Linked DNA regions of Homo sapiens: region 1 is linked to region 2. Evidence: fine-mapped expression QTL. A gene starts in region 2. The other region holds a variant in brackets. All regions are shown on one strand. Distances are from middle to middle.

What was found. PIP is the estimated chance that this variant, and not a neighbour inherited with it, causes the effect.
Region 1: its variant is the best candidate, but not a certain one, in a credible set for the expression of EVA1A in fibroblasts (GTEx, PIP 0.84).

Annotation. Positions count from the first base shown.
Region 1 is chr2:75,593,939-75,598,328 of GRCh38, reverse strand. No RefSeq gene overlaps it. Among named protein-coding and RNA genes, the nearest start is that of EVA1A, 35 kb to the right of the region's middle. The variant C/T (reference allele first, on the strand shown) is at 2,293.
Region 2 is chr2:75,558,920-75,563,309 of GRCh38, reverse strand. EVA1A (eva-1 homolog A, regulator of programmed cell death) reads left to right here and starts at 2,371. Exons shown (of 4, transcript NM_001135032.2): 1 at 2,371-2,630. RefSeq lists a silencer at 2,362-2,421.

The DNA.
Region 1 (4,390 bases), 35 kb before region 2:
GGACGGCTTGCTCTGCCAGGGAGAGGGGCCCCCCACAACGAGGCCATCTCCTTGGCCCATAATCCTACTTGTACTTCATGCGCCGGTTCTGGAACCAAATCTTGATGTGGTGCTGGCTGTGGTACAGCAGGTTGGCCATCTGTAGGCGCGAGGCCCACGCAGGCGGCATGGAAGTGGAACTCGCTGTCCAGCCCCACCCACTGCGCGCTCCTAGGACTCCCTGGGACTCGTGTCTTCCTCACCGCCGCTGCCGCCCCCTGTTGGATGCAAAGGGCAGGGGTGGGAAGGGGAAAAGTAAAATATAATAACTGGGGGGAGGGGCGAGGAGGCTGGGAAAGGTGACTGGAAAACAAACAAGGTGACCGAAAATGCCTTGACATTTCTCCCATTTAGTGGTGGGAACTACATCCCTCCCGCACCACTTCGCCCCACCCCACCCCGATTCTGGACAGGTTCTGTAATTGCTTGGCCTGCCTAAGTGACACTGTGCCAGTTTATGGCCTCAGGCCTTACGGGACCAGCGGCTTCCACTTCCTGCTCTGGGAATCTGGACTCTCGGAACCCAAATGCCATACTGCGAGGAAGCTTCAGCAGCCCCAGAGACACATGTGGGAAGGAGTTAGGGTCCCTGGTCAGCAGCCTCTGCCGACAGTCAGCATTTTGGAGCTAACTAGGAAGTGGATCCTCCAGCTCCATTCAAGACTTCCTTGTTGGAAATACATGGAACAAGAACAGCCGTCTGCTCAGAGTTCTCCCCAAAATGCAGATTAATGAGCAAACTAGATGTTTGTTGCTATGTGAAGCCACTGAGTTTTGGGATGGTTTTTTTGTTTGGTTTGGTTTGGTTTTTTGAGACGGAGTCTCACTGTCGCCCAGGCTGGAGTGCAGTGGCGCAACCTCGGCTCACTGCAACCTCCGCCTCCCGGATTCACGCCATTCTCCTGCCTCAGCCTCCTGAGTAGCTGGGACTACAGGCGCCCACCACCACGCCCGGCTAATTTTTTGTATTTTTAGTAGAGACGGGGTTTCACCGTGTTACCCAGCATGGTCTCGATCTCCTGACCTTGTGATCCGCCCGCCTCGGCCTCCTAAAGTGCTGGAATTACAGGCGTGAGCCACCGCGCCCGGCCGGGATGGTTTTCTACACAACACTAGGTAACCAGAACAAGGACCGAGTTGTGGGCTTTCTGACTCTCAGCCAGTGTTTCTTTCACTCTATTTTGCTGGAGCTCAGTGGTTCCCTGTGAGTCTCCTGGTCACTCAGTAGTCTCAGCGCTCTGTGAGGTTGGACATGCTGGTAAATCACCCTGCATAAGGACGGCTGGATGACTCAATGTCTTCAGCAGAAGTCACCAAACCTAATGATCATGAGAATCCCTGGGGTGTGAAGTAAGAGGTGTCCTCTACTCAACGAATTCTCTGACTCATCTATTAATTCAATTTTGACACTAACTGCCTGGAGTGAGTGTCAGGCAACACAGGGTTAAGGTCTCAGACCCACAAGACTGCTCTCACTTCAGGAGCCAGTCACAAGTATCAAGCCCCCAAAGTTACCAAATTGGCCACAAACTTGGGGGTTCTCATAGCTTCTCCTGGCCCAAGTTTTGATAATTTGTTAGAACAATTCACAGAACTCAGAAAAATGCTATATTTACTATTGAAGTTGATTATAAAGGATACAAATGAACAGCTAGGTGAAAAGGTACATAGCACAAGGTTTGGGAGGGTCCCAAGTGCAAGAGCCTTTGGGGATGTGTTTGCCAGTTTGGAAGCTCTCTGAGCCCCATCTTTTAGGGTGTTTTTTTTTTTAATGGAGATTCTGTTACAAGGGCATAATTGATTAAATTATTGGCCATTTGTAATTTGACTCAATTTCCAGCTCCACTCCCCTCCCGAGAGGTTCAAGAGTGGAACTGTGTAGCTCAAAGTTTCAACCCTCCACTCACATGGCTGATCCCCCTGGAACCCATGAGAAGCTATCTCAGGCCCACCCTGAGTCACCTCATTAGTATAGACTCAGATATGTTTGAAAAGAGCTTGTTATGAATAACGAGACATCCCTAACACTTCTAACAGTCAGAAAATTCCAAGGGTATTAGAAGCTCAGTGCCAGAAATGGGGGACAAGGACCAAATAAGCCTTTTTATTTTACTACAGAGGATTAAGTATGTAGATTCTTGGGACCTATTCCAACTGTATATTGAATTAAAATTCTTAGGAATAAGACTCAGACATCTCTTTTTTTCTTTCTTTTTTTTTTTTTTTCCTGCTGGTTTGTTGATCTTGGACATT[C/T]CTAGTTTCTAAAGCATCCCCAGTGATTCTGATGACCAGCTAGCTTTGAAAATTACTGATCATGAATCATTTGTGAGGAATTTGGAGAAACATCCCAGCATCACCTACATGCACAGATTATTCTAAACTAGACATTACTGGATTTTTCCACTTATGTTAAGATTCTTGGGCAGGATGAGTTTTTTCTACTTCTTGGTTAAGCCAACCTGAGGCCTCCAGGTTCTCTCCAGACCTGTGCTTCAACTTGGTGTTGGCCTGGGATCCTCAATATAGATGTCTCTGATGCCCCTGGGCCAGGCTAATGTGAGTTATTAATGTTGTTTGCCAACTATTTATAGCTCTTCTCTCTTCTGGGCACATGGCAGAATTGCACTTTCTTGCATCCTTTGATTAAGTGGGCCCATATACCTAGCTCTGGCCAATGATCAGAAGTGATGTGTGTCACTTCTGGGCCAGAACATTTTATTACCAGTGCAAGATCCTCCAGAATTCTCTGTCTTTCTATCTGCATGGTGGGAGTGGCAACTTTCTGAATGGCAGTTGCTCTGTTAGTATGAGTTCCTGAGTGACTGTGATGTACAGGACCTCCTTGCTGACTTACGATGGACGTGTAGTATTAGCAATAAAGAGATTTTTATTGTTTGAAGCCACTGAGATTTGGGGGATGTTTGTTATGGTAGCATAGTCTAGTCTAGCCTGATTGATCTAGGCAGAGATTGTAGGCTTATCCCTCTGAAGCTTTCTCATTCTTTTGTGGCTTTGGGATTAGGATCATGCCTCTTAACCAATTTGGGTTTTTTTTTTTCTACTTCAAAGACTTATTAATGACAAAAGTCTCTCCTTATTAATGCAGGAATTAGCACTCTTTCACCCAGTAAACTTGTCAGGGGCCTGTCAGTATTCTCAGAACAACCAGTAACTGTTGAGAAAATGATGCTATCAGTTGAATGGTAGTGGCTTTTGTTTGCTTATCATGTGCAACTCATAATTATGAATGCCGGGACATAAACTAACAAAGAAAATTCTAGTTAACAGTGTTTAAAATACTTCATAGAGTATTGTCTTTTTAAAGGGCTGTCTTACAGACATGCTTCACAATTTTTCTGAAAAGCCAGTGGTGTGAGATAATCTGTCTGTCAGTGAAATTAGTGTCGTTTTCCTACCCTCAGCAAAGGTGATATTTATTAAAACTGTTTTTTAGAGATTATTTTTCTCTCTTACTTTAGTACAGAAGTCAAGACCCCTGGTAATCAAAGAGAGGAAGCACTGCGTTACCTCCTGAGTCAGCACATAGATGGGGCTGCGTCTATGCAGCTGTGACTTGTCATTGATTGCCATTCTTTTCCTTGGGGGAAGAACATAAACTTTTTTATGGCTGCTTTCTTTCATCTTTTATGCAAAAATAGCCACCAATGCTTCTTGTGTTGGTATCCTGGGTGATGAGTTTTCTTTATTCAGTTTATAGGTAATTATCTCCCTATTAGATCAATCATTTAATTTTATTTCTACATATAGAAGTTTTTACCTTTTGTACAAGTAATATGTGTATACATTCTGTTTATAAATAATTCAAGTACTGCAAATAATGCTGAAATCCCCGTTTGCCACTTCTCATTTTCCTCTCCAGGGTGAATTATATGTGTGTATCCCTTCGAATTTTTACATACATATTTACATGCACATGTGTACTTGTGAAATTATAATATTTTTATGTTTTAATTTTTCACACAAATGGAATTTATTGTATGTACTGTTCTAAAATGGCTTTATTCACTTAACATATCTTAGAGAGTTTTCCATATTGGTATAAATGGAGAAAACTCATTCTGTCTGTTTATTTTCTATAATATGCATGTGCCATATTATTTAATAATTACCCTACTCACAGACACTAAGGTTATTTCTAAGATTTTATTATTACAATAATGTGGCCACAAATGTTTTTATACACATGACTCTGTACAGATGTGAATGTTTCTCTAGAATTGATACAGAGCAATGAAATGGCTTTGTCAAAGAATCTAAAACTTTAATTTTAGCAGATATTTCCCAATCTCCCTCCAAATTGTCTGAATCATTATGTAACAACTATTTCCCC
Region 2 (4,390 bases):
CCCGTAGGAACCCCAAGAGGGGCTCTCAGGCTAGCAACGGATGCACTTCTGTCCTGCTGCACAACCAGAAGTAGATAATCTAGATGGCAGCTCTAGTCTCTCCATACCTGTGATTCCTGAAATCTGTTGAAGTGTAGGGGGTTCAACAGTATCTGCTTCATTTTAATAAAATGAGGCAATGTTTATAAGTGAGACACAGCCCAGTGACTGGCACGTACTAAGTACCAACACATATTAGCAGTTCTTAGTAGTGGTAGTATTTTTAAATCCAAAGGTAGATTGGGTCAGAGTGCTTCCAGGTGTCCTTTCTCCAGCCTGGGGGCAAATAAGTAGGCTCAAGATTAGGGCCCATCTATAGAAAGTCTGTGCTCACCTATTGGCACCTGTGCCCTATCTATTTATTTCTTTACTAATTAGTTCATTCAACACACATTTACTGAGCACTGATTGTATGTGTGCTCCTGTACTCGGCACACAAACCTCTGATCTCTGATATTCGTACAGGGCTGTGCCCTTGGCTAACACACGTAGTATTACATCAGGAAACCCCGCTTCTCATCACAGCCTCTCCATATGCCTGCTGGAAAGCTGGAGAGTTAGGGGGAGCTCTGATGATGGCCCTTGCATGCCAGAGTGTGGAATTTGGAGTCAGGCAAGTATGTATTCTTTTTACAGATAAGGAAACAGAGGTCGGAGAGGGGAGTACTTTCTCAAGTTCAGAGAGTAATTTAGTGCTGTCTGAGGCTAGAACCTTGTTCCCTGATTAGTTTAGGAAACAAGGGCCCTTTCTACCAGACCAGTTGCCTCTGCATGAGAGTGGAATAACCTGTCTTTACGTTTTCATCTACAGATAGGTGTTGTTTTCCTTTTGAAGAGCAGCATTTCAAGGTAAAATGAAGTAGCTCTTGAGTAAGTCTGAAACAGTGGCTCTCATCTCTGGCTGTATGAGATCATCTTGAGAGCATCTGAAAAAAAACTGATGTGGGAGCTCCACCCCAGACAATTACAGAAATATTTGTGAGGGTGGAGCTGGGGCCACCTATTGGTTTTTAAAGCTCCCCAGGTGTTTCTAATAGACACCCAGGGCTCCATAGTCTAATATACAATCAGTCCAATATACAGCATAATATACAGTCAGTGGTCTAGCAGCCAGTGCTTCCAAATTCTAATGCACATTTGAATCATCTAGGGATCTTGTTAAGCTGCAGATACTAATCCAGTGGTTCAAGTGCGGCCCGAGGGTTTTCATTTCCATAAAGCTTCCATGTGGTGTTAGTACTGCCAGTCTCTGGACCACACTTGGAGTAGCAGCTCCAGAAGGCACTCTGGGATTCTAGTCATCCACGTGGTCACTGGCTACTCTAGCCAGAGGCCTGGGAGTCACCTCTCTCCTTCATCCTCTCCTCATCTTCTCCCTTTCAAGCCCTTGGTCATCAGATCTTGTCAGTTCCATCACACTGCTTCTAGGAGCTCCTCTCCTTTCCTAACGGACTGGCACAATATTTTCCTCCCTGTTCCCCACCATCACTCACTGCCCTGGCTGTGCTCTTTGCTAGACCGCCTCCTGAAGGCTTTCTTATTCCGTCTTCCCTCTGTCCAAGCTTTTATTTTGATTCTGTAGAAGGCTCTTTCACTCCGTGACCCATCTCTTAAGAGACCACCGCAACCCGGGACCTGTTCTCTCCCTGCACTCTTCCCCTATGACGATTGTATAGGAACAGGGTGTCCCTCTAGTTGTTTCTGCGTTTCCAGCCCCCAGCTGAGCGCCCATCACTCTCAATAAAATACTTGTTGATTTTAACAAACAAAACCCCAACCCTGAAAGAGAAAGGCCAAACAGAGGCCTCAGCTGCATTTCTTCCGATAAAAATGAACATTCCTTCGAGATTATGCATCAGGCTTTAACTTCCCACTCAGAAAAAAAAAAAAAAAAAAGTTGATCAAATTTAACAAAGTAAGTGGTTATTTCCTGTCTGAGTTGAGTAGCTGAATACAGGCTCAAAGCAGGCGACGGGACAGGAATGAGAGGATGGATGCTGGCAGGGGCTTGGAGGTCTGCTTTCAAATCTGGGCTCGTCCCAGCAGGGGGAAAGCCTGGAGGACCGGGATAGGTTGGGGACTGCCGATGGGGAACCTCCCCGGTCCTGCGGACAGTCGGCAGCGCGGGGAGGCAGGCAGGAGTTGGGAGCGTGAACTAACTTGGCGCGGAGGGAGGTGCCGCACGCCGCAGCCGTTCAGGTTTCGCGTCTTGCGGGCGCCCACATGGGCCGCTGGCTTGCAGAAGGGGGCGGGGGAGAGGGAGGGCAGGTCCGGAGCCAAGCGGGTGGAGGAGGGGGGAGATCGAAGGAAATGAGACAACCTTTTCCTCCCACTGACTCGGGCTCCTGCAGCTTCTGCGGGGCTTGGCGCCGCCGTCCGTGAGCACCCAGGCCGGGACCCCACATCCCCAGGCCAGCCCTGACCCCGGCGGCCCCTCCGCCGGGATTCCTTTCCGAGGTACTGGTGCCGGCCCAAGACCCGGGCAGCGCTTTGTCGTGTCCGCCCCTCAGTGATCAGCTCCGGGTCCCCCTGCTCGGCCCCGCGCGCCCCAAGCGCAGTCCCCGGAAGTGCGCGCCGGGGCCCCAGCAAAGGTAAGAGGTGCCCGAGAGCGCTCCCTGAACTCTGGGGGCGCCCGGCATCCCCAGCGGGCTCCGGCTTCTCCGAAGCGCCCTCTTTTCGGAAACACCCAGAGCACTTCTGACCTGAAGCAGCTGCTTTGTTCCCAAGTCCCTGCCCAGGTGTTGTAGGCTGGGTCCCACAGGGAACTCTGCTTCCCAGCGCTTTCTTTTTTGCCTCCTCTTCCTCCCACTTTCCTGTTTCTTCTCTCGCCCCCCCTGCTTCTTTCTGGATAGAACAACTCTCAACTCCCTGCCTCTGCAGCCCAGCTTCGGAAAGCAGGTCGTTCCCAAATCTAGCGCTTCTCTCCTGTGCCTCTGGGAGCTGGGCTGAGCCTGACTGGCTTCTATCCCAAGCCTGCGCGGGGCGGACCTGCCAGAAATGTACGTGCTGCACCGTGGACTATTTACCTGGTTTGTTTCGGAGGCAGCCAACTCGCCGCGCGCATTTGGCGACCCCCAGGACCCCGAAAGCCGAGTGCATCAGGGAGTGAAAGGCTGTTGGCGCCCCCTAAAGTCCCAGTGGGACGCTTTGCTTTTGGAGAGGGGCGCGCAGACAGTCCACGCTGCTCTATCTGGGAGGTCTGCGTGGGGGTCCCCACCCCTACTATTGAGGGGTAAGGGGAGGTGTTGGCACGCAGTACGGAGCGCGTTGGGACATGGAGGAAATGAGGATGTCCTGGAAGGAGAGGAGTGCCAACCACATCGTGCTGGCTTGCCATGTTGTTCTTATTAACTGCCTGAGTTCTCATAACAAGCCTGTGTGTAGGGACTCTTACCCCTATTTTACAAACGGGCAAAATGAGATGGGGCCACACAGCTAGCTAGGAAAGGGCCCAGCCAGGATTTGGGTCCTAGCTGGTCTATACCACACATACACTTCAAGTCCAGCCCTACAGAAGATTCTTCTTTTTAGTCTGAGCAAGAACCGTCCCCCCAACTCCCCCGCCCCCCCCCCACCTCCTTTCTCATAGTACAAGGGACCAGGCTTTTTCCGTTTTGACCTAATATACCTTGATTATATTCAAACCCAAACTACTTATTATCTACTGTCCTCTGAGTTCAGCGGCAAGCACTGAGGTTTCACCTTTGAATCTTATTAATTCATCCCCTTCTTGTCATCCAGTCTGTCACGAAATGTGTAATACTGTTCAGAAGGCTGGCTTGAATCTCCTTTCCATAAAGGCAGTCAAGCGCAGTGGCTAAGAGCCCGGGCCCTGGAGTGAGACCACCAGCTTGAATCCTGGCTGGGGCCTTCCTGTACCTTTCTGTAGCTGGATTTCCTCATCTGTAAAGCAGGGATGCTAGGGCTTAAAGTAATGGTTTTCAACGGAATTTTGATTTTACTTCCCAAGTGACATCCAGCAATGTCTGGAGACATATTTGGCTGTCATCATGTAAGTAGAAGAGGATCTTATTCATCTGGTGGGTAGAGGCCAGGGATGCTGCCACATCCTGTATTGCACAAGACATCTCCCCCCTCCCCCACTCCGCTTCCAAGATTTAAGAATTATCTAGCCTAAAATGTTAATAGTGCTGAGGTTGAGAAGCCCAGGTTTAATGTTTCACTTCATGAAGAGTGCCATTATTTCCAGCTCTCATCCTTTTATCTGCTCTAGTTTGGCTGATTATACCAGTCTCTGTCCCAGTCTTTCCCTCCATTCCAGTGCCAGAATTCTGTTGCCAAATCCACAGCAGGTCATGCGGCTATATTGCCTTAGCACCCTTGTTGGTCC